Regions from separate parts of the Homo sapiens genome. Here region 1 is linked to region 2. A link means that fine-mapping ties the variant in region 2 to the expression of a gene that starts in the linked region. Tissue or cell type: whole blood. Region 2 holds a variant in brackets; the other region holds the start of a gene. All regions are shown on one strand. Distances are between the middles of the regions.

Region 1 (2,627 bases), 51 kb before region 2:
AGCTACTCTGGAGGCAGAGGCAGAAGAATCGCTTGAACCCTGGAGGCGGATGTTGCAGTGACCGAGATCGCGCCACTGCACTCCAGCCTGGGTGACAGAGCGAGACTACGTTTCACCAAAAACAAAAAACAAAACAAACAAACAAAAAAACGGGGGTGGTCTCCTGTTCTAGCCCCGTAAATCTCCCAAAAGGGGCCGAGGTACTGGAATCCCTTGGTAGTCATTTTCCGCTTCTCTCAGAACAGCGCCCTTGACTTTTACCTTGTAGTTGGTAAGCCCTCAGCCTGCCAGAAGTCATGTATTTTGCCCAGTGGACCCGATTCTGTTTGGCCACCTATTTTCCCCCACGGTACTCCTATGGCTTTCTCCAAGACCCTCTCTTGCTGTACCAGACAGCAAGTCCTGTGACTCCCTGTGTGAGGAGCGCGGCACAGGCCTGCCTCCTAGGTGTTCGGGTCGAGATTTACAGCGGAGTCTCATCCCGGGACGTGTGAGTGCACTTCAGCGCAGGACTGCCCTGGACTGGGGAGACCGGAGCCGCGATTTTAGACTCAACTCCCCATCACTTGCCAAGGGATCTTACCGTCCTTGTTTGTAAATTAAAGATAAAAGTTGTGAAGGTAAAATGAGAACCATGAACTTGGAGGCAACTTGACCAAAAGTAAAACGCACCACCCAGAATGCAAAGTATTTTTCTTGTGCCTTGAAAACAGAGGCCATGTGGTGGCCTGTTACATATCCTGTCATACCCTCATGGGGGCAGCCAGAGTTTAAGTAGAAACTGTCACAAGGCCGGTTGTGACTGGAGTGGTGTGGCAATGACAGGTCTTTGGTTAGGCTGCTCCGCTGCTCCACACCTCCATTTCCTCTCTGAAAATGGGGGTAGTGTGGAGGGTGGACCAGATGGTCTCCCCTGGCCTAAAGACAGACCAGGTTGTCAGTGACAGGCAGAGGTCATGTGACTTGACAGGCTGAGGTCGTGTTGTGACATGTTGACCTGGGGAGGCGGGTCAAGTCCCAGCACACTACCCGGGAAGCCTTTGGGGCGGGGCAGGGCAAGTCGCGACTTTCATCTTTCGGGGCCTGGCCCCTCCCGGACCTGGCATTCCTGGTTCCCGCAACAGACTGTGGCTTTGGAAGGGGCCCCTCCCTGAGGAGGGCTGGGATTGGCCACCAGTGGCCTGGGAAGAGGCGCAGATCCTTCCGCGGAGGGCGGGGGGGCCGCGTGGGGTGTTTGTTCTCTTGGGGATTAATGGGGGGTTGTGGGGGAGGGGTAGGCGCGCTCCCGCATGCGCACTGCAGCCCCTCCAGTTGGCTCGTCGCTGTCCGCTGGGCGGGGGCCCGGCCCCGCCCCTCTCCCGTCCGGGCAGCGGCGGAGGCGGCGGCTCCTGCGGCGGCGGCTGCGGCAGCGACGGCGGCGGCGGCAGCGGCAGCAGCCTGCGCAGTGCCTTCTGGGAACGGAATCCCCAGGGCTGCCCCTGGCCCCCATGGCGCATGCGCGGGAGGCCGCTCGGTGATCCGCGGCGGCGGCAGCGGCGCTTCCTGCTAGGACCGGCCGGGGCCGTACCGGAGGCTCGGGCTCCACCGACCCTCCTCCCACCCCCTCCCACTCACCCTCTGGGCCGCGACTGCGCAGGGCGGGGCCGGCCGAACCATGGGCCGCGGTGAGTGCGGGGCCCGGCCCCCCCCACCCTGCCCCTCCCCCTCCCGTCCCTACCCTCTGCCCCCTCCGCGTCCTCTCGGCCCCTTTCCCCGGCCCCATCCCCACTCCCCCGCCCTCACCTGCCCCCGCCGCTTCTCCCTCTCACTGCCAGACTTCTGCCTTCCTCACCGCCCTCCCCTCAGTGCTTCGCCCACCCTCCGCCCGCCCTCTCCCCAAGTTCCTTCCTACTTCGTGCGCCTTCCCCTCCTCCTCAAGCTGAGGGAAGCAGTCTGGGTGACAGGGCGCCTTGTTGTGAGAGGGAAAGTTTGGAAGCCGCCAGTGTGGGGTGGGAGCAATGGTGAGGCTGGGGAGGATACCTGCAGGTTGGAGGGGCTTCCCCTTCTATCGGAGGACAGGCTCTCTTGGAGATAATCGGAAGCCAGTGGAATAGGAGGTTCTGAATCCCTTTGCCGTAGGCTTGAGGGAAAATCAGGAGCTTCCCAGGATCCTGGGAGAAGACTGAGCTGTGATCCTCACCTCTTAAGACCCGAATGAACTATATCAGCGATTGTCTGATGGAGCAGGCATGGGGGGAGTTCTGCTGGTACCACCCCAGCGGGCAGTTGGGCAATTGCCTGGTGACCTGTGGGGCAATCTGTACTTTTTATATCATCTTCCTGGGTAGAGAACAACAGGAGCCAGACACTCTGGGAAACTTCCTAGTGGCCTAGCATTATGGGAATGTGCCCATACTCCTGGTTGAAGTCTTCTACTCCGAATGGAGGGAGGCCTTGCCCTTCATATGCCTAAGAATTGGGCTAGACTTTCTTGGTCCCAGGGAGCTGAGGTTCTGACCCTCTGGTCCCTAGGGACTGGGCTTGGAAAGGATGGTTGTAGACTAAGCCAGCAGATCCCCGAGATCTTTATAGGTGCTTGCCTCACATTGTTAAGGATCTTTCTTTTGAGAGGGTGCTGGGCTGTGCTG
Region 2 (2,631 bases):
GTTCAGGCTGGGCACTAGTGGAAGACGCAAGATGAGCCATCCAGGCCTTCACAGATACTGAGAAAGGCAGCCAGAGAGCCAGGAAACATGCCTTTGAACTAGACCCAGGAAGACAGGTAGAGGCTTGTATAGACCCAATTGAAAAGATACATTCTAGGTTGGGCGCAGTGGCTCACCGCTGTAATCCCAGCACTTTGGGAGGCCGAGGCAGGCGGATCACTTGAGGTCAGGAGTTCGAGACCTGACCTCGCCAACATGGCGAAACCCTGTCTCTACTAAAAATACAAAAATTAGCCAGGCGTGGTGATGTGCACCTGTAATTCCAGCTACTCAGGAGACTGAGGCAGGAGAATCGCTTCAACCTGGGAGGTAGAGGTTGCAGTGAACTGAGATCACACCACTGCACTCTAGCCTGGGTTATAGAGTGAGACTCTGCCTTAAAAACAAAACAAAACAAAACTAAATTCTAACGGGTGCTGAATAAAGAAGCAATGGAGGCCAGGCATGGTGGTTCATGCCTGTAATCCCAACATTTTGGGAGGCTGAGACAGGCGGATCGCTTGAGCCCAGGAGTTCACGACCAGCCTGGGTGACATAGTGAAACCCTATCTCTACAAAAAATACAAACGATTAGCTGGGGGTGGTGGCACACACCTATAGTACCAGCTACTTGACAGGCTGAGGTGGGAGAATCACCTGAGTATGGGAGGTTGAGGCTGCAGTGAGACATGATTGAGCTACTGCAATCCAGCCTGGGTGACAGAGCCAGACCTTGTCTTAAAAAAAAAAAAAAAGAGGCTGTACATGGTGGCTCACGCCTGTAATCCCAGCACTTTGGGAGGACGAGGCGGGTGGATCACCTGAGGTCAGGAGTTCGAGACCAGCCTGTTCAACATGGAGAAACTCCGTGTCTACTAAAAATATAAAATTAGCCGGGTGTGGTGGCTCATGCCTGTAATCCCAGCTACTCACGTGGCTGAGGCAGGG[G/A]AATCGCTTGAACCTGGAGGCGGAGGTTGCAGTGAGCCGAGATTGCACCATTGCACTCCAGCCTGGGCAACAAGAGTGAAACTCCGTCTCAAAAAAAAAAAAAAAAAAATTTGGGAGGCCGAGGCGAGGTCAGGAGATTGAGACCATCCTGGCTAACACAGTGAAACCCTGTCTCTACTAAAAAAATACAAAAAATTAGCCAGGCATGGTGGCGGGCGCCTGTAGTCCCAGCTACTCAGGAGGCTGAGGCAGGAGAATGGCGTGAACCTGGGAGGCGGAGCTTGCAGTGAGCAGAGATGCGGCACTGCACTCCAGCCTGGGTGACAGAGGGAGACTCTGTCTCAAAAAAAAAAAAAAAAAGCAGCAGCAACAGAGCAGTGCTTGCAGTAGGAGTTAGAGGTGGGGCATAGGCACAGAGTTCAGAATGAAATATGCAAATCTGTGGATGTGAGAATAATCTGGGTGATCAAGGAGATCAAAAGAAAATCATGTTGCTTTATAAGATTTATTTGTAAGTGGGGGACTGTCAGAATTGGATTTTTTTTTTTTTTTGAGATGGAGTCTTGCTCTGTTGCCCAGGCTGGAGTGCAGTGGTGTGATCTCAGCTCACTGCAACCTCCGCCTCCCAGGTTCAAGCAATTCTTCTGCTTCAGCCTCCCGAGTAGCTGGGACTACAGGCACACACCACCTCTCCTGGCTAATTTTTTATGTTTTTAGTAGAGAGAGGGTTTCACCATATTGGCCAGGCTGGTCTCGAACTCCTGACCTCGTAGTCCACCCACCTCGGCCTCCCAAAGTGTTGGGATTACAGGCGTGAGCCACCGAGCCCGGCCCAGAATTGGATTTTTTTTTTTTTTTTTTGAGATGGAGTCTCACTCTGTCGCCCAGGCTGGAGTCCAGTGGTGTGATCTCGGTTCACTGCAACCTCCGCCTCCTGGGTTCAAGCAATTTCCTGCCTCAGCCTCTTGAGTAGCTGGGATTACAGGCATGTGCCATGATGCTTGGCTAATTTTGTATTTTTAGTAGAGACAGGGTTTCACCACCATGTTGGTCAGGCTGGTCTCGAACTCCTGACCTCAGGTGATCCACCCACCTTGACCTCCCAAAGTGCTGAGATTACAAGGCATGAGCTACTGCGCCCAGCCAGAATTGGATTTTTAAATGCAGGCGGAGGAATTTAATGTGAAATGCCGCTGATAGAGAGCTGCTAAAGGTCGTTTGGAAAATACCCATCCCATTTGAGTCCCTGCGTATGTGGGTGTGTATGGGTAGGTAGAAGGTGGGAGGGAACAGATAAAGCTTCCCAGCAGCCAAGAAGCATCTCTTCCTCCTTTAATCACCTTAGCCAGTGGAGATCAGTGGGGCCATCGAGGAGGAGTTCACTGTGGCCCGACTCTACATCAGCAAAATCAAATCAGAAGTCAAGTCTGTGGTCAAGCGGTGCCGGCAGCTGGAGAACCTCCAGGTGGAGTGTCACCGCAAGATGGAAGTGACCGGGCGGGAGCTCTCATCCTGCCAGCTCCTCATCTCTCAGGTGAGTGCCTAAGTTTGAGAACCTTCAGATGCCATGGGAGAAAGAAGGCTACTCTGGGGTTATGGCTAAAACTCCTAACACCCACCTTTATGTCAAAGTTCTGGGGTCAA

Evidence for each region. PIP is the estimated chance that this variant, and not a neighbour inherited with it, causes the effect.
Region 1: MBD6 starts here. The variant in region 2 is fine-mapped to the expression of MBD6 in whole blood (TOPMed, PIP above 0.99).

The regions. Positions count from the first base shown.
Region 1 is chr12:57,521,348-57,523,974 of GRCh38, forward strand. It overlaps MBD6 (methyl-CpG binding domain protein 6), which reads left to right and starts at 1,477. Exons shown (of 13, transcript NM_052897.4): 1 at 1,477-1,664. RefSeq lists enhancers at 1-138, 1-885, 519-628, 719-788, 886-1,845 and 1 more and a silencer at 1,309-1,708.
Region 2 is chr12:57,572,752-57,575,382 of GRCh38, forward strand. It overlaps KIF5A (kinesin family member 5A), which reads left to right. Exons shown (of 29, transcript NM_004984.4): 16 at 2,333-2,521. Among named protein-coding and RNA genes, the nearest start is that of PIP4K2C, 17 kb to the right of the region's middle. The variant G/A (reference allele first, on the strand shown) is at 988.